7 linked regions of the Homo sapiens genome follow. The protein of the gene in region 1 interacts with the protein of each later gene in a pairwise test. Each region holds a gene or a part of one and is shown in the gene's direction. Other genes may lie near its edges. The genes, in order: CFAP206, TMCC2, KLHL3, SAMD3, GSE1, ZBTB32 and RNF138.

Evidence for each region.
Region 2: the proteins of CFAP206 (region 1) and TMCC2 interact in a two-hybrid assay, tested with the Homo sapiens proteins (one large-scale study listed by BioGRID).
Region 3: the proteins of CFAP206 (region 1) and KLHL3 interact in a two-hybrid assay, tested with the Homo sapiens proteins (one large-scale study listed by BioGRID).
Region 4: the proteins of CFAP206 (region 1) and SAMD3 interact in binary tests that used the Homo sapiens proteins (3 or more experiments, as listed by UniProt).
Region 5: the proteins of CFAP206 (region 1) and GSE1 interact in binary tests that used the Homo sapiens proteins (3 or more experiments, as listed by UniProt).
Region 6: the proteins of CFAP206 (region 1) and ZBTB32 interact in a two-hybrid assay, tested with the Homo sapiens proteins (one large-scale study listed by BioGRID and IntAct).
Region 7: the proteins of CFAP206 (region 1) and RNF138 interact in a two-hybrid assay, tested with the Homo sapiens proteins (one large-scale study listed by BioGRID and IntAct).

The regions. Positions count from the first base shown.
Region 1 is NC_000006.12:87,410,082-87,414,488, forward strand, and holds part of CFAP206 (cilia- and flagella-associated protein 206), read left to right. Parts: intron 1-503; coding exon 504-587; intron 588-3,728; coding exon 3,729-3,819; intron 3,820-4,407. UniProt on the Homo sapiens protein: Essential for sperm motility and is involved in the regulation of the beating frequency of motile cilia on the epithelial cells of the respiratory tract. Required for the establishment of radial spokes in sperm flagella.
Region 2 is NC_000001.11:205,237,327-205,241,733, forward strand, and holds part of TMCC2 (transmembrane and coiled-coil domains protein 2), read left to right. Parts: intron 1-3,405; exon of another isoform or gene 3,406-3,594; intron 3,595-4,178; coding exon 4,179-4,407.
Region 3 is NC_000005.10:137,725,781-137,730,187, reverse strand, and holds part of KLHL3 (kelch-like protein 3), read left to right. Parts: intron 1-4,407. UniProt on the Homo sapiens protein: Substrate-specific adapter of a BCR (BTB-CUL3-RBX1) E3 ubiquitin ligase complex that acts as a regulator of ion transport in the distal nephron.
Region 4 is NC_000006.12:130,146,404-130,150,378, reverse strand, and holds part of SAMD3 (sterile alpha motif domain-containing protein 3), read left to right. Parts: intron 1-3,975.
Region 5 is NC_000016.10:85,651,322-85,654,821, forward strand, and holds part of GSE1 (genetic suppressor element 1), read left to right. Parts: intron 1-2,956; coding exon 2,957-3,129; intron 3,130-3,472; coding exon 3,473-3,500.
Region 6 is NC_000019.10:35,702,376-35,707,368, forward strand, and holds the start of ZBTB32 (zinc finger and BTB domain-containing protein 32), read left to right. Parts: upstream 1-2,182; 5' UTR 2,183-2,248; intron 2,249-4,993. UniProt on the Homo sapiens protein: DNA-binding protein that binds to the to a 5'-TGTACAGTGT-3' core sequence. May function as a transcriptional transactivator and transcriptional repressor. Probably exerts its repressor effect by preventing GATA3 from binding to DNA.
Region 7 is NC_000018.10:32,122,329-32,126,735, forward strand, and holds part of RNF138 (E3 ubiquitin-protein ligase RNF138), read left to right. Parts: intron 1-1,189; coding exon 1,190-1,246; intron 1,247-2,405; coding exon 2,406-2,517; intron 2,518-4,364; coding exon 4,365-4,407. UniProt on the Homo sapiens protein: E3 ubiquitin-protein ligase involved in DNA damage response by promoting DNA resection and homologous recombination.

The DNA.
Region 1 (4,407 bases):
TTTGTGAAAACATTTTTAAAAAGTTTATAGAGCATGTGAGTTCTAGATTTATAGAGACATTTAGAAGACCTTGATGAGTTTTGGAAACATCAATAATGTTCTCCTGTGTGGGAATTTTTTGACGTGTATTTTTGTTTGCCGTTGTTAAAAATTACTCATTGCTGTGGTTTCTCTGTTCTTGCTTTTGGTTAACAATACACAATAAAAATACAATAAAATATGCCATAGTTTCCCAATTGAAAACCTAGCCATTGCTTTCAACTTATTTCCCCATATAACTTTTCTAGCACCATATTCAAGTTTGATGTTTGTTGCTTCCTTTTTTCAACCTCTAACAAGGGTACTGATGAGTTCAGTAATAAGAAGAATAGTTGGAAAACCAACCCCAACGTAATCAAGAGGTAGTTGTTTAAAAAATGGAAACATATTAAGCTAATAATATGAAATAAAATTGCTTAATGGATTCTTTCCTAGTTAATGGACTCGTTCCTACTTTTTTCTAGGTGAAAGCTGTTGTCCTGGATCCAAGTAATGGCTTTAACATGGATAGAACCCTCATGAAAAGTGATGTGCAGAATCTTGTTAAGGTGATTACCCAACAGTCCTCAAATTTGCAATTACTTATTCTCAGTTGTAAATACAATATTTGTATTAGTCATTATTGCCTTCAGCTGCATGAAACAAAAGCCCACAAAATAGTAGTATACACGAGATATTTTTCTCATAACACAAAATCTGGAGAGACATAGACCATTCTTCCTGGCTTCCTGGGGCACACCATCCTTGCAATATGGTCATCTGGTGGTCAAAAGATAGCTACCCTGCCTCTAGGCAGAAAGAAGGGGGAAAGACAAAGGGCAAAATATGTGTGCCAATTGGGTCTATCACCTTCTATCCAGAAAATAATAATTTTCCCAGAATCCCTCCCATCTACTTAACATTTATTGACCAGAATGATATTGTAAGTGACCCAGGGACATTTCACTTCTTTTTTCTTTCTTAGATGAATAAATCCTTGCCCCAATCCAAATTGAGGCTCTGTTAGTAAGGAAGGAAGGGCAGGGAAATTGGGCAGGTAGCAGCATCTGCTACAGTATTTTAGTGAAACCTTGTTACTAATGTCTTACATTGCAAACATTAACTAGTTCGTCATATACTGTGAAGTTAAATAGAACTAAATTAATTTGCATTTCTCTAATGCTGAGTGATGTTGAGCATTTTTTTCATGCTTTTTGGCGATTTGTATGTCTTCTTTTGAAAAATATCTATTCATGGCCTTTGCCCACTTTATAATGGGGTTATTTGTTGTTGTCGAGTTGTTTGAGTTCCTCGTAGATCCTGAATATTAGTCCTTTGTCAGATGCATAGTTTGTACATATTTTCTCCCATTCTGCAGGCTGTCTTTTCACTCTGTTGATTATTCATTTTGATGTGTAGAAGCTTTTTAGTTTATTTAAATCCAATTTGTCTATTTCTGTTGCATTTACTTTTAAGTCATGAATTCTTTGCGTAGGCCAATGCCCAGCCCCCTAGGTTTTTTTCTGTTATTTTTATAGTTTCAGGTCTTACATTTAAGTCTTTAATCAATCTTGAGTTGTTAATTTTTGTATATGGTGAGACATTGGGATGGGTTTCATTCTTCTGCATATGGTAATCCAATTTTCCCAGCACCATTTATTGAATAGGATGTCATTTCTCCAGTGTATGTTTCTGTTGACTTTGTCAAAGATCACCTGACTGCAGGTATGTGGCTTTGTGTCTGGATTTTCTATTCTGACAATGAGATACAATCTTACACCAGTTAGAATATCTTTAAAAAGTAAAAACATAACAGATATTGGTGAGGATGCAGAGAAAAGATGGTATAAAGCTTGTTCTTAGCAATAGGGGAAGTGATTGTGGCAGTCAGAAATTTTATTGGAAAGCCGTGGAAGAGAATCCAGGAGGGGCAGAAAATAAGTTGTTCTCCTTGTCATGACCCAAGAAGAGTTTTCCATTCCCCCCAATTCCCCAACTCAACTAAGTTGGAAAGAATCAAGCCAATATACTTTTAGTACGACAGGTACATAAACTAACAACATATGTTATATTCAAGTGACAATTTTTTTCTCAACTAAAAATCATGTGGATGAGCTATTTTTTTAAGTGTGCATTTTAGAACAGTACTTCTGTATGTGGAGGGATCCAGGTGCACAGGCTTCTGCAAAGACATAGTGTCCAATCCTCAGTCTTGCATTCTCCCCTCCCTCCTCCCAGGAAAGCAGGGCTGGTGCTCAGGGAGATGGGTTGAGAGTGATGCTGCCAAGTGCCTGCCAGCTGCAGTATATTCAGCCTACAGAGTGAGCAGTGAAGGAAGTGGGGGAGGGAGGTGACCAGTAGAGATGAGAGAAGGAAAGAAAAACTGAGGTTGATATTCAATATAAAGAGGCAAGGCAGAGAAGGGGAATGAGCCATCTATGTGGGGGCTCATAGGAGAAAACAGACCAGGAGAAGAAATATCAAGGGTAGAACCAGAGAAATTTTGTGAAGAGAGGGGGGTGGTTGCAGCAGCTTTTTAATTTTAATTTAATTTAATTTAATTATATTTTATTTTTTGAGACAGAGTCTCGCTCTGTCCCCCAAGCTGGGGTGCGGTGGCATGATCTTGGCTCATTGCCATGTCCACCTCCCGGGTTCTCAAGCGATTCTCCTGTCTCAGCCTCCCGAGTAGCTGGGACTACAGGTGTGTGCCACCATGCCTGGCTAATTGTTGTATTTTTAGTAGAGACGGGTTTCACCATGTTGACCAGGCTGGTCTCGAACTCCTGACATCGGGTGATCTGCCCACCTCTGCCTCCCAAAATGCTGGGATTACGGGTGTGAGCCACTGCACCAGCTGCAGCAGCTTTTTATAAAATAAAATGAGGAGTGTTGTTCAAGGCACAAATAAATAGTAATGAGGAACTCTAGAAGAGTTTTAGACTGGAATATAAGCTTTGTGGAACATTTACCCACATTTAGACTGCTCAAACTAACCAAAACATCAGGTTTCTTGCCTTCAACTAGACTACTAGCCACCTGGCATGATGATTATTGGTTAACTCAAGGGAAATAACTTATTACTTAACAAATGTTATTGGTAGTAAAGATATGGAATCAACCTAAGTGTCCATCAACAGATGATTGGATAAAGAAAATGTATACACACATACACACAATGGAGTTTTATTGAGCCATAAAAAATAATGAAATCATGTCTTGTGGCAACATGGATGGAACTGGAGGCTACTATCTTAAGTGAAATAACTCAGAAAGTAAAATACCACATGTTCTCACTTATAAGTGGGAGCTCAATAATATGTACCCAGGGACATAGAGAGTGGAACAGTAGACATTGAAGACTTGGGAGGGTGAGAGGGGAGCGAGGGATAAGAAATCACTTAATGGGTACAATGTCCACTATTCAGGTGTTAGCTACCCTAAAAGCCCAGGCTTCACCACTACACGCAATATATCCATGTAACAAAATGACACTTGTACCCCCTAAATCTATAAAAATAAAAAAAGTTATTGGTTAAATAAACTATAAAGCCTGAAGTCCTCAAGGAGAAAAAAAAAATAAAAGGGGTTATTGGTGAATCAATATCAGGAACCACTGCTTTTCCCTTTATTTTTGAAAATAACTTTAGGAAATACTTGACTGTCTCAAAAACTATAACTAGAAGTATTCATGGGACATTCTTTTCTAGCTTTGTATGACTCGGCTATTGGATACTAAAAATCCATCCCTGGACACTATTAAGATGCAAGTCTACTTCGATATGAATTATACGAATCGAGGTAATGTATACTACCTATTTTTATACTTAAAAAATTTCATACTGTGTTTCAGCTAAGAAGGGCTTCATTTGGTTGACAATGAATTTAATTGTTTAATCAATTTAACAATTTAATTTTTGGCAATCAACTTTGAGGAATACAACGTTAGAAATGCTAAATGAAAAAAAACCATTGGCCTTTGTGAGTGTTAAAAGTGAATTCCAATTATTGTGCTCATAATTATTGTTTCCAGTGGCACTAATACATAATAATTAGGAATTCAGCCCATTGAAGTTAAAAGTTTTTAATTTATAGATTTTCTTGTTCCTGGTTTATGTTATTATCTCATTATAATTACCTAAATTATGTAACTATTCAAAAATGAACGATGGGGAGTTTAAGTTTAGAAAACGTTTCAATATGTAAATTTTTTTTGAGACAGAGTCTTGCTCTGTCACCCAGGCAGGAGTGCAGTGGCACGATCCACAGATCACTGCAACCTCTGACTCCCATGTTGAAGCAATTCTCCCACCTCAGCCACCCGAGTAGCTGGGACTATAGGTGTGTGCCACCATGCCCAGCTAATTTTTGTATTCTTAGTAGAGACGG
Region 2 (4,407 bases), on another chromosome or scaffold:
CCCTGTTTCCATAGAGACCCTATAAATAGAGGAATGTTGGCGACCTAGGCTGGCAAAGGCTCAGGGTGACCCAGTCACCCCACTGAACCCTCACAGCCAAACTGTTGGTAGGGCGGAAGGAGTTTCAAACCCAGGTAGGAGGAAGGGCTATGCAGTCAGCTGCCAGGTGGGATAATTAGCTATAGATTAGTGTGACTTTAAGCTTTCCTGGGATTTGTTGAGAACACACGTACCTGTAAAAATTAGAAACCACTTTTGGTCATTTTTAACCAGATGGTGCCAATGACACTGTACCCCAAGGCATTTTAGTTTTGTATTCATGCAGCTGTGTTTGCAGATTTTGGAGCAAACTTCCCCTTTGGGGGACCCACACCCAGGGAGAAAGACGGATGAAGCCCAACTGTTCAGAAACCACAGCCTTCTCAGGAAGGATCTTTCAGAAGCCATCTAGTCCTCCCTTTTTTCCTGAAAGGACAGTGCCACCCAAGGAGATGGGGCTCTTCCTGCCCTTTCAGATAGTTCCAGGGGAGGGACAGCCAACTCCCCTCACTTCCTTCCCCGGGGCACCTCACCCTGGGAGGCTCTCCTTTCTGACTACCTTATGGCCAGTTCTGGGGACGGCACTTCTTGCTTCGGTCTTACAGATCATGAAAGCCCTGTTTGTTTGCCACCTCTAACTCTGAAGCATCTCAGCTCTCTAATGCATGGCTTCATTTGGCCACCAAAATGGTTTCTGGCAGCCAGGGAAAAGCAAAAGTCAATGTGGAAAAGCAAGTGACATTTTAGGAGCTGGAACCTGTTAGTCAGAGCAGGTGGTGCTTTCTGCTGCGTTGGCGGCTAAGTTCCCTTAAGCTAGTCACCATGGTTTTCCTCACTTCTGAAACTTGTAGCTGGTTATGTGTATGTGCTGAGTTTTTTTTTTTTAAAACACTTACTGTGTTATGTCAAAACTCCTTAACCATCTCCTCCCTGACACCCACATGCAGAAGCGGCCCAGCCCTTGCGTCACTTTGCTGTTCCCGCCTCGCACCTTATCAGTGAGGAAAAACCCCTTCATTTGGAGTAATCTCCTCTCTCTGCACCTTGTTCTTTGACTTCCTTTTTGTTATTTCCCTCCTGCCTGCCTCAGACTTTAATAGATTCCTCGGTCTGCTGGGACAAAGGTCCTGGGGTCTCCTGGTCACTTTCCCTAGGTTTCCTTCAGCTGCAGGACAGCTCAGGGAGGTGGGAAGTAAAGACTTTATAGTTGAGGGTCTTGTCCCATAACATGGGATGGGCAGGTCACAACAGCAGTTCAGGGGACCTAACAACCCTTGACCCAGGCATTTTTGTTTGGCGCCTGCCTCTGATACTATTCTGGGACACATGCAAATACCCTATCTACTTTAAATCTTAAGTCTTGAAATCAGTGTATGGGCCCATGAAGGTAAATTCAATTAGAAGTCGGGGGTTTCTCTGTGTGGCTTGGATGAGCCACTTAGCTATGCTGTGCCTCCGTTTCTTCATCTGCAAAATAGACACTGATGCTGTGACATCTCACATTCCTAGCTCCTGAGATTAGGCTAGTGTCAGATTATAATGACAGTATAAATCGGAACGCACTTTGCAAAATGCTGTTGTATAAATTTTAAAAGTAAATTGACCAAGGATTTTAGGCTCCAAGGCAATATGGCAGACATCGGTGGCCACCGTAGCTCTCCCCAGCACCTCCACCAGCCTCCCGGGGATAGGGGAGAGGAAATGCCTCAGAACTCTAGGACCTCTGCTGAAGTCTTTAGAAGGGAAACTCTTTCTGCCTGAGTGGATCCTCAGTGTTGGAGAAGCCAGTTTAGGAATGGGGGGAGAAGAGGAAGGGACCTGGAATAGAACGCTAGAAAGACAATTCGTATTATGGAATGTGACGATTTGGCAGAGGCAGCTGGGCAAATGCCAGAGCCAGCTGGCCCCATCACAGTGTCTGGAGGGAGGTCTCACATCAGCTTGGGCCTGGGGAAGGGGGAGGTGTCCTGGCAGGTCCCTGGTCTGAAGGCTGCAGGATCTGGCCTGTTCCAAGTCCATGGCAGAGTTGACATCTTGGTTCTCCCCAGCACAGATTCAGGTGAGCCTTGTGACCCTGCCTCAAGCTGGCCCCCAGGGGATGGTAACTCCTGTGGGAAAAGCTGGCATTGTGTAACTTAAGATCTCGAGGGCTGCCCCAGAATTCAGTTCTTGAGAAGGAATCATGGTAGCCTTAATTTCCTCTTCTCTAAATGGAGATGTTTCCGTTGTTGCTTTTGTTACTATTTAGGAGAATCAATGGGATAATGCAGGATACAAATCTCCTTTGAAATGAAAAACCGTTAGTTCGTGATGAGTTGTGATGATGTAATTTATCTGGTCTGTAAAATGGGTGATGTAAGGGCCTCATCTACTTTAAGGATTCTGGGGATACTCAAATGAGGTGAAAAATGAAAATCCTAAAATTTTACACAAATACATAATAGTACAGTTATTGTATCCAGCTGTAAGCGCAGCCATCTGCACAAACTCAAGGCTGAGTTGTAAAGTAACCTAAGAGTGGGGTCAGCTCATTTAGAGGATGTCAGGTTGCTTTTTCTTGGTTTCTATATGGTCTAGATTTTCTGCTCTGTAAGTTTGTTTCTAGGGAAAAAAAAAAAGAAAATCCAGTCTGTGTAATTTTTTGGAACATTTTTTAAATGACTGAGGCAGCCTGGTAAGATTGTGGGTTGTTCCTCACAGGAAATCCTGCTATGGCTCATTGAGTCCCAAATGGCTGGGCCCTGAGTTTTCCTCTAAGGAGCTGCAGAATGTGAGGTGTCTCCTGGTCCTCCAAGTCTCACCCCTCCTTCCAACAGCTCCAAAGCTCTCATAGAGGGCTCAACCTGGCCGGATAAGCCGTCCCCTGACAGAAGCAGCTGTCTGGAATTATACCACAGTTGCTCGCCCTGGCAGGCCATCCAGCTGCCCCTCTGTGAGCAGTCTTGCCGGAAGAGCAGCTGGAGAATCTCAGCAACAGGGCTAAGAGGAAAGGCTGTGGCCTGGGCGGCACCGGGTTGCAGTGCCTCTATGCTTTGGATCTAAGGGGAAAGACACTCATTTGGATAGCTTGTTCTGATGTGTATGCTAAAGAATTGGTCACATTACTATGTCACAAGGTTTGCTCATAGAAGTAAAGTTTATTTCATTGCCAACCATATCAGGAATGAAATTGGTTGCAAATAACAGAAAATCATACTAGAGTTGTGTAGACAAAGATGGGTTTATTTCATGCAACAAGAATCCCAGGATAGATGTTCACAACTGGTTTGGTGGCTCCATAGACCTTCAAGTTCCCAGGCCTGTCCCTTGGGCTCCACCATCTGTGTGCAGACCCTCATCGTCAACCATGTCATCTTGTGGTTGCAGAATGGCCACTGCATCTCCAGGCACTACGTTCCCATTCCAGATGGGAAGATTTGGGAAGGGCCAGTGCCTTTATCAGGAAAGCAAAAGTGCTCCCAGAAGCTCTCACCTTGCTTTTCGTTGGCCCAAACTGTGTCATGTGGCTACTCCTAGCTGCAAGGGGAGTCTGATGAAGCAGGAATTTTTAGCAAGGTGAGTTAAGTCCTTGCAGTTTGGTTGGTAAGAAAGAAAAATAGATATTGGGTAGGCAATTAGCAGTGTCTGCTACAACAGTATAACTTGATTGTATGACCCTGATTTTACTGGGGGAATGTTGGAATTAGGCAACTTTGGAAATCGATGCTTGGTGGCCTGAAAGAACTAGTACAGCTTGAAGGGTCGTCTAACTTGGAAGGAGGGAAGGACTGGGGGTGGGGATCAATCTAGAGGGATACAACCCCATGAGCCAAGTGCTACCTGTGTATGCCATTAAGCCCCAGACTGAAGCCCTGAGAGCATCATTCCTAGAAACTCTGAACCTTCATTTTGATTAGGAATGTCCCGTGGAAAACCGTGGGGGCACACTTCTTTCGGAATGAAAGGATGGGTCTGGGTTGCCACCTTTTCGCAAACTGACCCTTTATGCACGACGGGCCATCCACAGAGATCTTCCAGGTTCAGATGGCTGCATTAGCTATGCCAGTCTACCAAGGACAGACCCTTCACCTTCACCCTCCTACTGACTAGGCAATCAAGAGCTTTCCACTCACCAGGGTTCTTCATCTCTCCCCCTTAAGAAAATCCAGCAGCTGTCAGAGGGCTCCATGTTTGGCCACGGTCTGAAGCACCTGTTCCACAGCCGCCGTCGGTCTCGGGAAAGGGAGCACCAGACGTCTCAGGATTCCCAGCAGCATCAGCAGCAGCAGGGTATGTCCGACCATGACTCCCCAGATGAGAAGGAGCGCTCTCCGGAGATGCATCGCGTCTCCTACGCCATGTCCCTGCACGACCTGCCCGCCCGGCCCA
Region 3 (4,407 bases), on another chromosome or scaffold:
GCCAGTTCTGCACTTACTAGTTATGTGGGACTTTTGGGAAGACTTTATGTCTGTACCTTAAGAGATAATGCTACCTACTTCCTAGGGTTGTTCTGAAGATAAAATGGAGGTAAGGTGCTTTAACATACCCTCAACTTTCAGGAAATGTTAACTCGATCTGTACCTTACTAATGCATGTGTTCTACGTGTCCATGTGGGCTATTATAGCGATTCAGCCTAATTCTATGAACTGAGGTGGCACTGCTGAAAGAGGATGAAGAGTATGGGGCTCTCTGGTAACCTGTGTGTAAATGGTACTTTGTGATAGCAGGACTGCACCACCAAGTCCTGAATCCTGCTGGCTGGACATCTTCAAGAGTCAGGTTCTTCATTAATCCAGAAGTAGAAATCTAAGTTTGATCATTTTGGTCTTGAACTTTAGGATTGGGATACTTACTAGATCTGCAGTTTGACCAGAGTGCCAGGGGCTCAGAAATCCTATCTATATAGGGTCCCATTGCTGTCCAGAGTTGGAGAAGCAGAGTCATGCCAATGACCTCATGAGAACCTAAAATACAATAGTCAACATGTCATCAGTTTATTGATTTGCAGTAAAATATTACTGGCAAGATATTCCTGAGGGCCTGCAACCACATTCTACCTCTCTGAAGGACAACCACGGGGGAGGCCAAACTGGTCAAAAGGCTGCAGAGTAAACTAGGGACTGAGTTATGGCATTGGAGTATTTACAGACTTCAAACTCCACCATGAGGATCTGACCTGAGGCTGAACCAGCTGACGATATCTGATGATTAAATCACTTTCCTAGACAGAGTGTGATGGGTTGGACCGAGGGCTTTCTTCTCTGTCTGATTCTTAGTTTTTGGTTATTCCTTTCTAAATGACACTTTCTTTGTTGAGAGTTTTTAATGCATTCAGCACAGCTTTGCCCTGGCTCACAGTTGTTTTGCCTTCATTGAGTGGTTTTGCCTCTTTATTCCATCTCATCTCTAGCTTGAACATAATGTGCTTGGGCCTCTTGTATGTGGCCAGTATCAGCTCATGACTTCTGAATTTTATTTGCATCTCTTGGAGACCTTTAGAGGTGAAACAGATCATAACCTTTAACAGCATTTCTCAGACTCCACTTTCCTTCCCTCTACATTCTCGCACACCCAAGATGTTCTGGAACTCCTCATTTGTTTTTTCTTTTCTTTTTTTTTTTTTTAACTTTTATTTTAGGTTCAGGGGTACACGTGCTGGTTTGTTATATAGGTAAACTTGTGTCACAGAGGTTTGTTGTACAGATTAGTACCTGTCATCACCCAGGTAGCCAATAGTTATTTTTTCTGCTCCTCTTCCTCCACCCACCCTCCATCCTCAAGTAGGCCCTAGTGTCTGTTGTTCCCTTCTTTGTGTCCGTGAGTTCTCATCACTTGGAGCTCCTCATTTGTTGGATTCCCCCAAACATTGCTGCACAATCAGCCTGCTTGGAGACTCTTCTATCCCCTGCCTTTCTAGCATGTTTTTTAGTATCCTTTCCTTTCCATTCACTGCCTCCATTTTCCTCAGCAATAGAAAGAGTCTAAGAACTGACACAGTAAGCAGTAACCTATCTCACTTTCTTCCCTCTTCTCTAGTTGTTGCTGGCTTTCTCTCACTCCCATCCTCCTGATTCTGTGTCATCAATGCAGGGGACTGGGCTGCCTAAGAAAGTACTCCTCTCTGAACGTGAGGTGGAGGGGTCATGGAGAGAAAGTTGAGGGGGACAAAGCCATCAGTATTTTAATGAAGGGGAGTGAGGAAAGCTACAGTGGTCAGTAGTTAAACCTAATTTACTTATCTACCTATTAATTTACTCAGTAATCATTCATTGAGCACCTGTCATGTGACAGAAGCTAAGAATTCAGAGGCAACTAAGATAACTGTCTTGGTTCTCATGGAGAGCTCACAATCTAGAGGGGGCAGCAGTGTGCTGGAGTCAGCACTCACCCACTTGGAAAAGCTGTTTGTTAAATTTTCAGGAATTTTCGGAGCCAGTTATTAAATATAGCCATTATTAACAAATTATGTAACTTATAAATTATATTAAAAATGAATGTAATAAATACCCCAAACTCATCACTTTCTAATTATTTTTTACTGTAATCTTCTAGGGCTTTGAGGTTATGTCTATTGTGTCTTGGTGTAGAAATACTATACAGTGATATGATGGTGTGCTGTTGCACATCTCTTCCCAAATCTCATGTTCGGTGGCATCATGTTGGTAGCTTAAAATCTGCCATGGTGGGAGTATTTACAGTCTGGAAATTGGCAAATGTTACAAATCAGGGCTCCTTTCCTCCCAATCAACTGTTAAACATTTACCAGCACACACTGTGTGGGGCAGACAGATAAGTAAGAGGTAATTAGAATACAATACAGAAGGAAGCACAGTACTGTGGGAATACAGAACTGGGGAAACTAACCTAGTTTCCCACTAGATTTTAACTAATCTAGTGAGTAGTGGAGAATGAGAGGGAAGGCTTCAGGGAAGAGGCTTGAAGGCTGGTAGGAACTAGCTAGACACGGGAGAATGAGTGGGGAATAAGATAGAACAGTTTTCTAGTGAGACAAAACTTCACAAGGCAGAGAGCCTAGTGTATTTTGGCTATTGCAAGTATTTTAGTATTACGGTAATAAGAAGTCTTCAGGGCAACGATGGGATTAAGGGCCAGGCTAGGTCCCTGAGATTTATTCTGAATGCAGTGAGGAATCAGTGAGGCTTCATGTAGAACATGCCTGGAACACATTGACATTTTGGAAAAGTCCCTCTGGAGTCTGGGAGGAGGTTATTATAATAATCCTGGCAAGAGACAATGATGACCTGGAATGGGGTTGTAATGGTAGCGAAAGTGAGAAGGAAATGGGGTGCAGGGATATTAATGGACATAGGATTGATTCGATTTATGGCTGTATGTGAGGAGTGAGAGAGAGAGAGAGGGAGGAAGATATCAAGGATAACACCCCAGTTTTTGGCTTGGATAGGTGATTGGGTGGTTGGTTATGCCTCTGAGATAGAGAATACAGAAAGAGTAGCAGGCTTAAGGGAGGGTGGGGAACATAAATTTTGAATAAGTATGAATTACCTGTGTAAAATCTAATTAGGGGAGTCAAATAAGACATTGGATATGTGGATCTGTAATTTAGAGGATAGAGGAGGGCAAGAAAGAAGGCTTTGGAAGGTGCTGTGCTAAAAGAGGGCCTAATTTTTAGAGCTTATATATTTTTATTTATAACTTTTATAATTACTATTTTATGTATATTTTATTTATAATTTAACTCTGAAGGCCAACTCTGCTTTCATTAAAAAATAAAAGTGTTGGTCAGACTATCCCCTTCTACTCTACCATCTAACGCTTGTAAAGACAAGTGAAGGGTCTTCAGGTAGAGTTCAGATGACAAATATGTCATGAGGACCTACTGTGGGCATGACCTCATGCTGGGCAGGCTAAGCTATACAGAGTCCTCAGACACATGTTCCTTGCCCTCTGGGTATGTTGAATCTAGTGTGAGGCAGGTAGGTGGTTGGATTTGTACCCTGAAAAAGTAATCAGGCACAAGGCAGAATTCTATGTGCCAGTTGAGTTACAGGCCAGAAATACTACAGGAATTCAGAGAAGGAAGAGCTCACTTAGAACTGATGTATCCCGAGGGTTTCATGGAGGAGGTAAAGTTTAATTGGTCCTCAAAGAACAGGTATTTAGATTATGATACAGGGAAAGAGAAGGGAAATATAGGTGTCTGCAGTGAACGGTTCATCTGCTTGGCACATAATAGGTACTTAGTAAATATTTGAGTAAGTGAGAGAGGTAAGGCTGGCATTTAGGTTCAGTCCAGGTCAAGGAGGTCCTTGAATACTAGTCAAGAATCATGACTTTATCCTGTAGACTGATGATTTTTCAGCTTTTTAGCTATAGAGTCCTTTGAAAGGAAATTTTATGTGGACCCTCAACATATAGAACAAATGGAGGCAGAGGGCTGTGACTGAAGCTTCAGCTCATAAACCTCACAGCCCCGAAGAGACCTGTGTGCAGTGAGGATCTGAAAGTCATGGTCAGATGACATTTTAGAAGGATCAGTTTGGCGATGGTGTGCAGGAAATACTTGGAGGGAGAGTATCTAGAGTGGGGAACAGCAGGTGGGAGGCCACTGTAATAGTCTAAGTCAGGGGAAAAGAGAAGCTGAAAGCCCAGAAAAGAAGGGCCAACTATGTCTATCCTTATGGCTATGAAGCTTGACTGTCTCACATGTATGTCTTCCTGAATGGGGTCAGTGGGTATCTGTGAGTGTGAGATAAGTCAGAACCAATTTGCAACACCCTTTCTGTGGGCTGTTGAACCATCCACTGCAGTGGGTTCATCATGGCACCAGTAGTGGTTCATATAA
Region 4 (3,975 bases), about 43 Mb from region 1:
ATTCTGGCTATGGAAGAAACTGCACTGTATGCTGGATGCTGATTCAGAGCTTATACAGCCTGGGAGAACCTTGTCCCAGCCCCACAAGGTATTGCCACCTAGCTGGTGCTGTAACTGAGTCTTCAACAGGCCACTCCACCAGTCTGGCAAGCCAGCTGCTTCAGGACAGGACGGTGGGGAACAGGATAAGACCAGTAAATTCCATGTATCATCACCATAGGGAATCTCAGCAGAGAAATGAAATACACGCACACACACACGCGCGCACACACACACACATGAACCAAATTGAAATTCAGAGCTGAAAAGAACAGTTATCTGAAATGAAAACATCACCATGTGCGTAGGCTTAAAAGCATATTGGAAAATGAAAAGAAAGGAGCTGTGAATCTGCAGATAGATTAATAGAAATTATCCAGTCTGAGTAACAGAAAGAAAAAGGATTAAGATGATTAATTTGTAGGACATAATCTGGGGTTGTGAAAAGGGGGGCTTTCTTTTTGTTCCAACTTTTAGGTTCAGCAGGGGATACGTCGTGCAGGTTTGTTATATAAGTAGATTGCATGTCGTGGGGGTTTGGTGTACAGGTTATTTCATCACCCAGGTAGCGGGCATAATACCCGATAGGTAGTTTTTCGATCCTCACCTTCCACCCACCCTCTAATCTCAAGTGGACTCCGGGGTCTATTGTTCCCTTCTTTGTGTCCATGTGTACTCAGTGGTTAGCTCCCACTTATAAGAAAGAACATGCAGTATCTGGTTTTCTAGTCCTGCATTAATTTGCTTAGAACAATGGCCTCCAGCTACACCTATGTTGCTGCAAAGGACATGATTTCATTCTTTTTTATGGCTATGTAGTATTCCATGGTGTACATGTACATTTTCTTTATCCAGTCTGCTATTGATGGGCATCTAGGTGGATTCCATGTTATTGCTATTGTGAATAGTGCTGCAATGAATATATGTGTGCATGCGTCTTTCTTTATATTCCTTTGGGTATATACCCAGTAATGGGATTGTTGGGTCAAATGGTAGCTCTGTTTTAAGTTCTTTGAGAAATCTCCAAACGGCTTTCCACAGTGGCTGAACTAATTTACATTCCCACTAGCAGTGTATAAGTGTTGGAGGCTTTCCTGTGGCTGACCATTCACAGCTGGGAGCTTGGCTACACAGATGTTAGTGCTCATAAGTAAATACACTGAGATATAATGGGAGCCAGGAATCTCACTGTTGAAGAGAGTTAGAAGCTTGGGAAGGGGAAGGTTAGGAAAAGCCCTGTGGTATTGGTTTGGAATTGAAAGTATCAATGTGAATTCATGGTTTTAGTCTTTATGTATGGCTATTTAATATTTACATATATAGTTATTGGTGTTTCTGGATCAACGGGTGCCTTTGTTTATGTAAATTCAAACATTTCCTAGATTTCTTCTATGAGAAAGTCTAAAGCAATAACATCTCCGTAGCAAGTTGCACACCAGGGCTGAAATCTTGGTTTTTTTTGGTTGGGTTTTTTTTGAGAAAGTCTCTCTGTTGTCCAGGCTGGAGTGTCATGATCATGGCTCACTGCAGCCTTGGCCTCCCAGGGCTCAGGTGATCCTTCTACCTCAGCCTCCTGAGTATCTGGGACTACAGGCATGTGCCACCATACCTGGCAAATTTTTGTATTTTTTGTAGAGACAGATTTCGCCATGTTGCTCAGGCTGGTCTCAAACTCCTGGGCTCAAATGATCCTTCTGCCCTGGCCTCCCAAAGTGCTAGGATTATAGGCATGAGCCACAGTGCCTGGCCTGAAATCTTAGTTTTTAAAGCCATTCTTCATGAAAAGGAATTAGGGTTCGTGGAGAAATAGCTCACTACAGGGTTGGGGGCAAAACAAAAATGAAAACAACAACAACAAACCAAGACGAGTCAAGACGAGTCTGAAATACTGTGTAATGCCAGAAATGAAGGAAGTGCTTGCACACTAATAAGGACATGCCAAGAGGGCACGGCAGTCTGTTTGAAGCGACTCCTACTGGCCAAGTCTGGGCAATTCGAGCAATTCTATAAATAATGAAAGGATCAGATTTGTAACCGTTTGGGTAAAATGGGAATTGATTAACCTGTAGTGATAGAAATAAGTAAGTAAATATATGTGGAAGAAAAGAAACTATCTTAAAATAGAAAGCCAACTAATCCATGTAGAAAGAAAGGAATTAGAAAAGTCACCATTTGGCAACTATTGTAGTAGTACTTGATTCAGGCAAGAATCATTAATGGATGTGGAATCTGATGGATCAAAGTTATACAAGGAACAAGATATTGACATAAACTCAAGGTATCTCCTCATAAAATACAACATATATTAATTTTACGTGGAAAAACCTGGTGAATTCCATTTCTAATCAAGTAATAAAAATTATCTCCAATACTGGGACCAGTTACCATTTTGTGCTTCCGGACACAGTGAGAAATGCTAATATTCTTGCCAGAAATGCATAAATCTTGAAATATCATAAAACTTCCAAGGAGAAATGTTCTACAAAGTAACTGGCCTCCACTTTTCAGAAACCGTCAAGGAAACTAACAAGTTGTTTCAGACTGGAGACTAGAGAGGCGTGGTATCTAAATCTCATATGGGATCCTGGATTAGATCCTGGGCCTGTTAAGAATATGACTGGAACAACTGGCAAATTTGAATGGAATGTGTAGTAGATTTTCCTGAATTTGGGTGCTCTTGTACTTAGGAAATACACAATGAGGTATTAAGGAATAGTGGGGCATTGTATCTACAGCTCATTTTCAACTGGATCAGAAATTGGGGGAAGCTGCACAGAGGGCACTTGTAAGTTCTGTTTACTATTTCTGCAACTTTAATGCAAACTTGAAATTATTTCAAAACATAAAAAGTCAGAAAAGAAATTCTTAGGCTATGAGCCCAGAACAGTGGCGTATTCACCTCCTTCATCCTTCCCTTCACATCTTCCTGCTGAGAAAACGGTTTTCTAACGGTATTAATCTAGATTAGTGGTCCACTGTGGGTTGCCTGGTAACAAAGCCACTATGCCTTATGCATTCCAGCTTTCTGACAACTTAACTTTCAGACCTAATCTCTAGGCAATTTATGATCTACCAAAACATTCAAGGAACAATGAGGCCCAGTGGGTAGTATGTGATTGTTCTTTATAGTTTTAGGAAAAGCAATGACTAAATTAATTCACTGGAGTGTGGGTGGCTAATAATCTGATAATGCCACTGTCAAAAACAGGAGGGGGAGTGGTGGTGGAATCCTCTGAGGGGGAAGAGTTCAGGCAGTGGTAGGATGGGGTAGTTTGAGGAAAGGGACTTCCATAAAGTAAACTGGTTTTGCTTTGAACTTGTAGTCAAATCTGCACATACATTGTTTCTTTTTCTTTCTTTTCTTTTGAGACAGGGTCTCACTACGTTGCCCAGGCTGGAGTGCAGTGGCACAGTCTCGGTTCACTGCAGTCTCGATCTCCCCGGGCTAAGGCAATCTTCCCACCTCAGCCTCCTGAGTAGCTGAGACTATACACGTATGTTGCCATGCCCAGCTAATTTTTGTGTTTTGTAGAGACAGGGTTTTTCTGTGTTGCCCAGGCTGGTCTCAAACTCCTGGGCTCAAGTGATCCTCCTGCCCTGGCCTCCCAAAATGCTGGGATTATAATCATGAGCCACCGTGCCCAGCCATATATCGTTTTTCACTGTTTACCTCTGTCTACTCTTAGTTTCTAAAGCACTCTCCTTTACCTAAATTTAGGATACTATGGTTAAGTATTTGTCAGGGCTTGCTTCCTAAAATCTAACAGTTTTGTTCTTTGCTGCTTGTTGAACAAGACATAACAATGTAGTCACCTAAAGAAATGTAAGATCTTAGAACCTTAGCTGGGTAACCCAAATAGCCTGCATATGCATACACCCTTTGAATCCTCATTTAGTTGAGTCTGCATCCAAAGTTTTAGTTCTGTAGGTTTAGAA
Region 5 (3,500 bases), on another chromosome or scaffold:
CAGGGTTGGCCGGGCGCCAGCCAGACGGAAGCCACAGACATGTGGGTCTGGCTCGCCGGGCCCCTGCCCCGCCTGCTGGCTGCCCCCCAGCCCCCCGGACTCCCTGTTTGTCCTCAGCCAGGCCAGGAAGGTGCCATCTGGCCTGCGAGCAGGGCTTTGTCCTCGGCTGAGGGGAGAAGGGGTTCAAGGGCCGTGTCTGGGCTGGGGACAGGCCCCTCCTTGTGGCGGGGCGGCTGGGGCCCTGTGCTTTGCCGTTTGACCCGGCCCACGGCGCGGGCAGCATGCGGAGGAGGGCGGCAGGCCTGGGCTGTTGGTAGTTTGACCCTGGGTGCTGTCCTCAGGTCGAGGTCTGTCCTCCAGCCCTCTTCTGACTCTGGCCACCCAAGGCTGGGTGATGATTGAAGCCCCTGGCTGTCGTCTCCCTCCTGCCCTGGAGGCCTCCCCACCAGCCTGGGAGGGGGAGTCCAGGTACCCCGGGTGCCTGAGCAGGCGAGGCCCCTGTTCTGGGCATCCAGAGACCCACTAGCTTTAGGCCTGGTGTTCATTGGGGTGCTACTTGGATGCTGGGGGGCCAGGGGCCACTCCGTCTTGTTAAGTCCATCCCAGACCCTAGGAACAGGGTGTGTCCTTCCTCGTGCTCCGTTCCTCAGATGTTTGGCCCTATGCCAGGCAGGGTAGGGGCGTGAGGCAGGATCTAGAAGCCCAGCCTGGAAATAGCCTCACGGGGCTGGGGTAGGCAGGCCAGCCTGGCAACACACCTGCCATGTCCGGGCCCCCACCCTGCTGGTGCGTCCCCCACATGCCCGTGCACAGCTGTGCCATCAACTCTGCTGCCCTGTGAGTCCCCCGCATGCCCGTTCATAGCCGTGCCATCAACTCTGCTGTCCTCTGAGCAGGTGCCGTGACGGGCACATGCCATTGATGTGTGCACGAGGCACGACAGGATGGCCAGGTCTCCCAAGGTCAGGTTGGCCCCTCGGCCACTCCCCCACTACCCCGGTTGCTGACACCGGCTGGAGACCCCAAGGCCAGGCGCTGGCTCCTCAATAGGAAGTTCCCGGCCCCACGCAGGGCGTCAGTGCCCATGTGTACCTCCCACCCTCGAGACCAGCACCCTGGAGAGGCAGGTCAGAAGTCGTGAACCCAGGAGGACCCTACAGAGAAGGGGGGCCGGGGCTCAGCCCGCGGGAAGGGAGCAGATGCTGCCTCTCATTGAAGATTCCAGGCGGCGGCGGCGGCGGCGGCTCCTCCAGTTAATCCTCGCTGACTGTCTCCTGGAGGGTGGAGAGAGGGGAGGCGCCGGCCCGGGCTGCCTGCACTGCCTCTGCGCGGGTGCCATGTGCTGCTGCCGGGTCACCGTCTGCCGCTATGAAGATGGATGGGCCCAGGAAGAGGGGCTGGCGGGTCAGGGACACAGGCACGGCCCCTGGGAGACAGATGCTTCTCCACGGTGGGGCAGGTCTCAGAGCCCCTGGGCCATCATTCCTGCTGATCTTGTGGGGAGACGGCCATGGCCTCCTTGTTTTTTGGGTGTTTGGCATTTCGTGGCTCAGGGAGGCAGAGCGGGGCTGGTGCTCTTCAGGAGCACTGCCCGCTGATCAGCAGTCGTTACCTGACATGGCCAGATGGAACGTGAGGAAGGGCCGGGTTCCCGTGGCTCTGCATCCCTGGGAAGCTCAGAGGGGCCAGCGTGGCCATGGCTCTCAGACACCCCCAGGTCAGGGTAGGCCTGGGCAGTGCTGTCCCCACATGGGGAAGATGCTGGGGCTGAGAACGGCTGCCCCAGTGACAGAGTGACGCCTGGGTTGGCAGCCATCCAGAGTCCAGAGCACAGCCCCCATCTGGGCCGCCCTGAGGCTCCCTCCGCCCCCCTCCTCCCCCCTCCTCCCCCCTCCCCCTCCTCCTCCTCCTCCCCCCTCCTCCTCCTCCTCCTCCTACCCCCTCCTCCTCCTCCTCCTCCTCCTACCCCCTCCTCCTCCTCCTACCCCCTCCTCCTCCTCCTCCCACTTAGTCACACGAATAACAGGAACAAGCAAGGCCTTTTCATGCTCTGGTTTCTCCGGGCTGGACCCTGCGTGTGTGCGGGGCAGCCTCTGCGTGGCTAGGGGTGGCACGGCCTATCCTTGAACTTGGCAGGGACCTCAGCCCGGAAGGTGGGCTTTGGGCCACTGCCTCCTCCTGCTTTGTGCCTGGAGAAGACCCCTCATCTGAGTCCTCTGGACCACCTTCCCAGCTACACCCAGGTCCACTGTGTCCAGGAGCCTGGGACAGGCGAGCTGTTGCCTTCCCTGCCCCACCGTGTGTGTGAAGGCCGGTACCCCAGCTGGCCAGTCAGGGCCCAGCTGCTGCCTGTTCTGGTGGGCTCCAGGGCCAGGGCCACCCCAGGAGGTGGTTGGGGGCAGACCAGCACCTTCGGCCCAGGGGCAGTGCCAGCTTCCTTTGCCCCTGCCCTCCACGTGGGCACCAGGGCCAGGACATCTGCGGCCAGGTGGGCAGCTGTCGGCGCAGTTGACGTCTTGGCTACATCGTGGCACTCGCTTCACGGCGTGCTGGGTGCCAACGGTGTCTGCTTCCCCGGGTGTGTGTCTGGTGTGACCTTCGGATGTCCACACCAGGAGGGGTGGAGGCAGGAGCCCCTGCCACCCTGCATCCTTCACCTGCACACATTGTGTTTCTGGGGGGTTCTAGTTCTTTTGCTGGACTGAGGAGGCCCAGGGAGGGAGACGGATCCCGAGACGCACTTCACCCCAGACCTGTCGCAGCCACATCCCCTTTCTTACGGTTCTGCTTCCCACACCACATGCACCATGTTTTGCGTAGAAAGCCTTAGGGAAAGGATGTTTCTAGAACATGAACTAAATCTAGCGCCTTCCCGTGAGTCAGGAGACCTGGCTGTGTCCTGTGGTCAGTGGCCTATACCAGGCTCCTGCCCTGACTGGACGCTCTCCTCCCGCAGGATGCCGGCTCCAGGAGCAGCAGTGGAGGTCGGGAACGCCTCATTGTGGAGCCCCCGCTCCCTCAGGAGAAGGCAGGGGGACCAGCCATCCCCTCGCACCTGCTCAGCACCCCCTACCCCTTCGGCCTCTCCCCCAGCTCAGTTGTGCAGGATTCCCGCTTCCCGCCACTCAAGTAAGTTGGTCGGCGGGGACTTCGGTGAGGTGGCCAGGTGGGGACACAGTGCTCAGGGTCTGGGTCCCCAGGCAGCCTGCGGTCTGCACAGATGAGGCTGTGCCTGCTAGATGGTTGTCGGCCGCTGAGCCCTGGGGATTGCAGCCCTGTCTGTGCCCCTTCACACTGAGGTGGCAGTGGCAGCTCGCTCCCCCCGCTGCTTAAGCCCCGTCCTCGTTCGGGGTGCCAGGAGTCTGGGTGCCGACTGAGCGCCAGGGGTGATGCAGGGAGTTTAGCCGTCCCCCCATGCAGGAGCAGGTGTGCACTCACCTGTCCCCACCTTGCCCACTATCCCCGCCTGCAGCCTCCAGCGGCCCGTGCACCACGTGGTG
Region 6 (4,993 bases), on another chromosome or scaffold:
ACTCGCATCGCAGCCTGAAACTGCTCAACTAAGCTCCCGCCCCGCTGCTCTCTGGTCAATCTAAAGCGAAGACGAGCCTTAGGGCCAATCAGAAGCGACAGCGGTGGAGTCATGCCCGCCTGCTTGAGGCGCCCTGGCGTCTCATTGGCTATGCTTGAGAACGAATCCCAGGCTAAGCCACTTAGAAAGGAGCGGAGCCAGCCAATCAGCGGTGCAACCGCCGCGGGGGCCGGGCCAGAAGCCCCGCAGACAAGCACCTCGGGAGACTGGCGAGGGGCGAGCTCGCAGCTTGTTAGCCCCGAAGCCCTGCCCAGGGGGAAACCCTGCTGGAGGGAGTCTAACCCCCGGGCCAGTTAATGTTGGGGCAGCGCAATCGGCCGTTCCCTCTGCGGTATGGTTGGAGGTGGGAGTGCTGACACGTCCGCGCGCAGTTACTCCTGGCTGAGCATACAGTCGAGGTGGCAGTGGGAATTGGAAGTGCAAGTGTCACGCTGCCAATCACGGGGCAAGGCACTGCCCCCCTCTTGTGTCTTTCCTGTCCCTGTACACTTCCAGGCTTCCAGGCGAGGCAGAGTGAGCTGTGCCAGCAATCGTGGTGGAGTGGGACAAGAGAGAAAAGGGAGCTGTTCACAGGCACCGAAGCCTGGCTGGCTCTTTTTTTTTTTGAGACGCCGTCTCGCTCTGTCTCCCAGGCTGGAGTGCAGTGGCGCGATATAGGCTCCCTGCAATCTCCGCCTCCCGGGGTTCAAGCGATTCCCCTGCCTCAGCCTGCCGAGTAGCTGGAATTACAGGCGCCCGCCACCACGCTCAGCTAATTTTTGTATTTTTAGTAGAGACGGGGTTTCACCATGTTGGTCATGCTGATCTCGAACTCCTGACCCCAGGTGATCCGCCCTCCTCGGCCTCCCAAAGTGCTGGGTTTTCAGGCGTGAGCCACCGTGCCCTGCCTGGCTGGCTCTTTTATTTTATTTTTATTTATTTATTAGAGACAGGGCCTCACTGTGTCGCCCAGGCTGCAGTGCAGTGGTGTGATCATAGCTCACTGCAGCCTCGACCTCCTGGGCTCAAGCGATCCTACTACCACCTGGACCTCTCAAAGCCCTGGGATTACGGGCATGAGCCACCGTGCCTGGCCTTGGCTTGCTCTTACGGGCCTCCCAGCCAATCAGGTGTGGCGGCAGCCTACACACCCCCTACACACCTCACAGATGGTAAAGGGTTGAGAGAAAGGTGACAGGGTTTGCAAATGGGAGCTACTTAGGGTGGCAAAATAGAAGCAAGAAAGGCAGGTCAGGCACGGTGTCTCACGGCTGTAGTTCCAGAATTTTGGGAGGCCCAGGTGGAAGGATTGCTTGAGCCCAGGAGTTCGAGGCTGCAGTGAGCTATGATTGCACCATTGCACCCCAGCACCGGCAACAGAGGGAGACCCCGTTCATAAAATAAAAATGAAATAATAATTTTTTAAAAAGCCGGGCGTGGTGGCTCACGCCTGTAATCCCAGCACTTTGGGAGGCCGAGGCGAGTGGATCACGAGGTCAGGAGATCGAGACCATCCTGGCTAACATGGTGAAACCCCATCTCTACTAAATGTACAAAAAATTAGCCGGGCGTGATGGCGGGCGCCTGTAGTCCCAGCTACTTGGGAGGCTAAGGCAGGAGAATGGTGTGAGCCCGGGAGTCGGAGCTTGCAGTGAGCAGAGATCGCGCCACTGCACTCCAGCCTGGGCGACAGAGCGAGACTCTGTCTCAAAAAAAAAAAAAAAAAAAAGGACAGTAGTACTCCTGAGCACTTGCTGAGGGAGCCTCCAGGGCTGTTCAGGTGAAGGAGAATCAGGGTCCAGTCTCTTCGTGGAGAGAGTGGGAAAAGGCAGACTCCACAGCAGATCAACGCTGGGGCCCGGCTGGAAATCAATGAAATCTCAGCCTAAGAGGCCTGAAGCCTATGGACCAATGAGACTCAAGGCTCTGCCCCTTCACAGCCAATCAGCTGCGGGTCCGAGGCAGACGCGCGGGAGTGGCGCTGTCCTAGGTGCCTCCCAGGCTGCCCAGCGTGCTCAGCTGGCCTGAGCGGGAGAATGCGGCCCGCGCTGCAGCCAATCAGCGTCCGCCTCAGGATCCAGGGGTGACCACGTGCGGGAGCGTTGCGTCCCTGGCCTCGCTCCATTCCCCACTTTTAACGGTCACTCGGCCTTAAGCCGTCCTGGGTGTATGTGAGGCTGAAAGGGAAGGAGGAACAGGGTCTGGGCCGGTGAGTGCCATAGTTTTTCTTACTTTACTTTCTTGGGCTTGGGCCCGGCCCAGGCAAATCTGGGGTATGGGGGCTTGACTGGACCTCGTTGATGATTGGGAAGTGCGGGTTGAGGGCTTTAGCCCTTGGGGCTTTCCTCTGCCTTTGAGAGGCTGGAAATGCAGCCTCCTGGCCACCTTTAGGCCTAGGTTTGGCAGAGGCTAAGCCAGCTTGCTCTCTGAGTTGGTCCACGGCCCCCGAGGCCAGCCTGAGTAGGAAGGGTGTTGTGGGGAAGTTGGAGGTCCTTAACTCTGCATGAGGTATGGCCTCCGGACAATGAGAGCTTATCAAGGGTCTCTGGACTGAGCCTGGATCCGGTGACTGAAAGGAGAGGCCTGTGGATCTCCAAAGGTTATGCAGGGGCTGGGCGCGGTGGCTCACGCCTGTAATCCCAGCACTTTGGGAGGCTGAGGCAGGTGGATCATTTGAGGTCAGGAGTTTGAGACCAGCCTGGCCAACATGGAGAAACCCTGTCTCTACGGGGTTTCTAAAAAAAATTACCTGGGCGTGGTGGCACACGTCCGTAATCCCAGCTACTCAGAAAGCTGAGGCAGGAGAATCGCTTGAACTCATTGAACTCAGGAGATGAACGTTGCAGTGAGCTGAGATCACGCCATTGCACTCCAGCCTGGGCGACAGAATGAGACCCTGTCTCAAGAAAAAAAATGAAAAGAAAAAAAAAGTTATGTAGGAAGTCACTGGCCAAGAGATGAAACTAGTGTGCACATGAAGGTTTCCTGGGGTCTTTGGAGCCAGCCTGGGCTGGGAGTGAATGTTCTGGACTCCAGGTTGAGATGTTCTTGGCAGATTTCCCAGTATGGAGTCCAGGTTGGATGATGTGGCCAAGAGGTTAGGCCAGTAATCCTCTGGAGATTCTAGGGAGAAGGATTCTGAATCCCAGCCGAGCTGTTTGCGCTGGATGAAGTATTATTGCCTTGTGGTGGCTCTGTACAGAACTGGGATTGGGTGGCCAGGCGTGGTGGCTCACACCTGTAATCCCAGCACTTTGGGAGGCTGAGGTGGGTGGATCACCAGGTCAGGAGCTCGAGACCAGCCTGACCAACATGGTGAAACCCTGTCTCTACTAAAAATACAAAAATTAGCCAGGTGTGGTGGCAGGTGCCTGTAATCCCAGCTACTCAGGAGTCTGAGGCAGGAGAATCCCTTGAACCCACGAGGCGGAGGTTGCAGTGAGCAGAGATCGCACCACTGCACTCCAGCCTGGGCAACAGAGCAATGCTCTGTCTCAAAAAAAAAAAATTAATTAAAAAAAAAAAAAAGCAGGGCCAGGCGTGGGGGCTCACATCTATAATCCCAGCACTTTGAGAGGCCAAGGCGGGCGGATTACCTGAGGTCAGAAGTTTGAGACCAGCATGACCAACATGGAGAAACCCCATCTCTACTAAAAATACAAAATTAGCTGGGCGTGGTGGCACATGCCTGTAATCCCAGCTACTAGGGAGGCTGAGGCAGGAGAATCGCTTGTACCTGGGAGGCGGAGGTTGCGGTGAGCCGAGATCGTGCCATTGCACTCCAGCCTGGGCAACAAGAGCGAAACTCCATCTCAAAAAAAAAAAAAAAACTGGAATTGGGTCATGTCTGGAGCTTTTCATTCTCCCTGTCCCACTCTTTCCCATGCCTGTTCTGATAATTCCTAGAAGATGAAGATATCAGGCTGTAGGTGCGGGGCAGGTGCATGGGGAGGATGAACATCGTAGTGGAGCACAGGAAGAGGTGTGTGAGATATTCTCCTCTTTAGGAAATCACCCAGGTTTTTGGCAGGGCGTGGTGGCTCACACCTGTAATCCTAGCACTTTGGGAGGCCGAGGCAGGTGGATCACCTGAGGTCAGGAGTTCAAGACCAGCCTGGCCAACGTGGTGAAACCCCATCTCTACTAAAAATGCAAAAAATTAGCCGGGCATGGTAGATGCCTGTAATCCCAGCTACTTAGGAGCCTGAGGTAGGAGAATCACTTGAACCCAGGAGGCAGAGGTTGCAGTGAGCCGAGATCGCGCCACTGCACTCCAGCCTGGGCAACAAGGGCAAAACTCTGTCTCAAAAATAAATAAGTAAATAACATAAAGGAAATCACCCAGGTTGTCTTTACTGATGATCTTTTTTATACTCATGGGGCAGGGTGTTGATACCTAGTTTCATTCAGCTGTTCAGTGGTATTTATGCTTTCGGAGTGCCTTCAGTACACCCAGAGTTCTTTAACCAGGGGTGAGGGTGCAAGGAGTGGCTTATGAGTGGACTTCAAGGAAGTCTAACCCCGAAACCAGTTAATATTGGGGCAGCTCAATTGGCCATTCCCTCTATGGTGTGGTGGGGGCCCGGGGTGCTGGCACATGAAGTGTGCAGTTAATCCCAGCTCGGCAGACAGCCACCAAGCATGATGGCACATGCCTGTAATCCCAGCTACTCAGGAGGCTGAGATAGGGGGATGACTTGAGCCCAGGATGTCAAGACTGCAGTGAGCCATGATTGTGCCACTGCACTCCAGGCTGGGTGACAGAGCAAGACTGTGTCTCTAAAAAAAAAAAAAAAAAAAAAGAACAATTAATGGTATGCATGTATATTATGAGGAGGGGAGGGTAAAGAATAAGCTAGACGATAGTTAACCTCTCCAGCCATGAGGCTCAGAGTAATCTGTCAATCTCTTGTCATGCATTCATATGCCAAGTGGTATAAGTGTCTACCATTTT
Region 7 (4,407 bases), on another chromosome or scaffold:
AGAAAGATCAGCTGCTAAGTAGATGATATAGTACTCCTTGTCTTTTTATAAAGGAAAAATGAATAACCAGTTTAAGTTCAACTTTTTAAACTCTGGCATTGAGATATAGAACCAACCTGTATTGTACAATTTTTCTTAGCCACTACTTATCTTATTACTGTGTTAAGATTTCTACTATTGAAAGACGTTGCTTTTATAAAATTGAGCACATTGGGCCAGGCGCGGTGGCTCACACCTGTAATCGCAGCAGTTTGGGAGGCTGAGGTGGGCGGATCACTTGAGCTCAGGAGTTCAAGACCAGCCTGGCTAACATGGCGAAACCCCGTCTCTACTAAAAATACAAAAATTAGCCGGTCATGGTGGCTCACGCCTGTAATCCCAGCTACTTGGGAGGCTGAGGCAGAAAAATTGCTCGAACCCAGGAGGCAGAGGTTGCAGTGAGCCAAGATTGCACCACTGCACTCCAGCCTGGGCGACAGATTGAGACTCCAGCTCAAAAACTAACTAACTAACTAAATAAATAAAATTGACCACATTGATCAAATTCTGTAGCACACAGGTGACGGTCCCTGTATGGAATACTTACTCTTCCCTCAGGATTCCTCTGATATTCCATGTGACACATGACTCTCTGGCATATGGTAAAAGTGGAGATGTTAAGTTGTTCTGTATATTAAATGTTAGTGAAGCCTGGTTTCTTTCCTTTCTGGAAATAAAATACAAACATAATGAACATTTACATATTTTCTTAAATTACTGCACTTTGGAGGGCATAACCTTATACCATGTCCTAGTTTGAAGTAAAAAAGTTCACAAATTCTTGAGTCTACCGTAGCATTTAAAACCTTACTAGTCTAGGTAAAGGTAGAGGAATGGGATTTAAGGTAATTCTGCAAAATTCTCTATACTTCTGTAACTGTGCATAAGTTAATTTTAAAGAACATAAATAAGAATCTAGTAAGCAGTCAATTTATTTAAAAGTAATTAATATTGTAATTATTTCATAGTTCAGAACCATTTGAAGTTCAAATTTTGTTTTTTCAAGGACCCAATAGGAAAAAGGTGTATTGAAGTTCAGACTTTTAAAACAAATTCAGACTAGTCTTCTTCATTAATGGTTCAAGATAATGAACCTTTAGTGTGTTTTCATTACTTTGAGGTATTAACTTTTTCCCCTGTGCTTCTTAAGCAATAGGAGTGAAACATCCACATCTGATAACACAGAAACTTACCAAGAGAATACAAGGTAAGCTTTTGAAAAATCCTGCCACTTTAGCAAGTAATATTATATTTATCACTTATCAAATAGCTTTTTAAATTAAACTTTTTTTTTTTTTTTTTGAGACGGAGTCTCACTTTGTTTTCCCAGGCTGGAGTGCAGTGGTGCGATCTTGGCTCACTGCAACCTGCGCCTCTCAGGTTCAAGTGATTCTCCTGCCTCAGCCTCCCAAGTATCTGGTATTACAGGTGCCTGCCACCACGCCCGGCTAATTTTTGTATTTTTAGTAGAAACAGGGTTTCACCATGTTGGCCAGGCTGGTCTCGAACTCCTGACCTCAGATAATCCACCTGCCTTGGCCTCCCAAAGTGCTGGGATTACAGGCATGAGCCACTGCGCCTGGCCATAAATTAAACTTAAAAAAAAAAAAAAAATCAGTTACATCATTAGGCATAGTGTTTGAAGTTAGCAGTTTAGAAATAGAAAATGCAGTTACTGCTTTTAAGAATCACATTAGGTTAGAAGAGTTTAGTTATTCTCTTTCACTGTGGTCAGGTTTCTTCCACACACGATTCAGGTAAAGTTGTCTGTGTTGAACTGTCCCTTCCTGAAATTCAGAAGTATTAAAACTCAGTGATGCTTGATCCTCAGAATGTTTTCGAGTATTTCATTCTCATGATCAGTGCTTTTGTTTTTTCTTTTCCTTTGAATTTTGGATGTTGGATTCCTAGGGCCTGGTATTTATTAGAGATACGATATTGATGGAAGTCTTTTAGAAGTTTTAAGTTCCTAGATAAAAGGTTTGCAAAATGTGGAATACTACAGAATATTAAAAATTTTCAAGGGACATACAGTGACAGCTATTGGCATCAGAAAACAACTACAATTAAGTTTGGACCTAACTACATAATATATGGAGTCAGCTAGGTTTTTGTTTTTGTTTTTGTTTTGGCCTAGAGGTGCCATGAAAAAATTTATTGAGGACACTAAGAGTACTGTAAACTGAGATTGGGAACCTCTGTAATGCATCATTTCCTGAATACATATGTTCAAAATGAGAGAATCTTTGAATAGTCTAATAATTATAACTTTTTTAAAAAATGTATAGTGATTCCTCAAAAAATAGGAGAGCGTTATTTTTGTGTTATTCTGAATTAAGTATGTTTCACTTAAAATTGTTTTATAGTTCTTCTGGTCATCCTACTTTTAAGTGTCCCCTGTGTCAAGAATCAAATTTTACCAGACAGCGTTTACTGGATCACTGTAACAGTAATCACCTATTTCAGATAGTTCCTGTGGTAAGTACATACGTTTGAGACAGTCTTCTGCTTAGAATAAAACATGCTGTTCTATTTATTTCACTTCATGTATGCAAGAGAAAGTAGTTGATTTATATTTGGTTGGGGCATTATCAGTAAGGTAGATTTTTGTCAACAAAGGATTGATGACTGTGAAGCAAAATGAGATATTTAAAATTGCAGTAACTCTCATTATAAAAAGGGAGATGCATAGTGTGAGGTAATATAGCACAGTCTGGAGAAGAGTGAAGTAATGAAAGATGAACCGGGAACTCATTCCTGCGCAGTAGCACAACCTGTCTATTGAGGCCTCAGTTACTTGCTCTGTAGATGGCAGACAAGTAGATCTAGTCAGGTAGATTGCTGTAGGTGAAAATACCTGTAAGTAAGAATAAAGTCAGTAGGTATTTTTATTGTTTTCTTGCAGCATATAGTATGTGAATGCATAAAGCAAGGAAGGAAAAGACTTAGACTTTGTATTTGATGCCTACATATTTTTTGACATTTTGAGGGTATGTAAGAAAATGGTGAGAGCTTTTTGATAATGAGGGAGATAGAGCAGAATTCAGGATTCCAACATATAATGATCCTAGAAGTGTTTCATAGGTAAGTTATTTCAGCTGTGAATGGAACAGGAGAAACTGAGCTGGGAGAGAGATTTCCCTTTCAGCTGAACATTTTGATATATAAATAATTGTCTTCAGAAAGGAGAATAGGAAGGAAAATGTTATCAATAAGAACTGTAGATATTTCTAAGCTGTTTTAGTGAGTATGCTAGGAAAAGTTGTGAAAGAATGTGCTTCAGGACCGGGCACGGTGGCTCATGCCTGTAATTTAGCACTTTGGGAGGCCGAGAGGGGAGGATTGCTTGAGCCCAGGAGTTCGAGACTAGCCTGGGCAACATAGTGAGACCCTGTCTATTTAAAAATAAAGAAAATAAAAAGAATATGCTTCAATAACCATTGAGGATGACCTTAAGCTCTCACATACCACCTAAGAAGGTGTACTACCTACTTTGCTTATTAGAATGGGTTCAGTTATGCTTAAATAGACAAATACAGTGCCAAAGATGTTCCAGGAAATCTCGCTCATATTTAAGATTTTACTTAGTTTTATATTGGATTACCAAATTTTTATTCATTTCTGCATAATATTCGATATATCATAAACTTTGGCTAGAGTTTAATTACTGAAGGTTTTTTGTGTGTTATTTCAGTTATTTATCCATTCAGTTTTTAAGATGTACTTCATTTAAACGTAAGGATATGGCTGGGTGTGGTGGCACATGCCTTTAATCCCAGCACTTTGGGAGGCCAAGGCGGGAGGATTGCTTGAGCTCAGGAATTTGAGACCCAGCCTGGACAACAGTGAGACTGTGTCTCTAGTTTTAAGAAAAGAAAAGAAAAACTAAGGATACAATTTAAAGTAAATTTTCCAGTTTACTTCATTTTTATTTTACTTACAAATGAAATAAAACTAATAATAATTATATGGTTATTGTATGGATCAAATGAGATAATATATTGGATATGTTGCAGGCAGCCAGTTAGTGATAACTGTCATTACAGTTGGTATTATTAAAAGCTAGATGTGGTTTTTCTGTTGAAACATTTGTGTAATAAGAGATTTAAGGAATAGAATGTCTAAGATTTCTCACTGTGTTAGATTAATGTCATTTATCTAAGGTAATTGATTGGGAAATGATCTAGTCATGGAACTTGGCCTTTAAAAATGCTTCTCACGTAGATATTTTTGGTAACATATCCCTGTGTTATTTTAATACTGTCAATTGTATAATATTTCATTGTTTTTATTATTTTTTGTTTAAAACAATCTGTTTCTTATAGACATGTCCTATTTGTGTGTCTCTTCCTTGGGGAGATCCTAGCC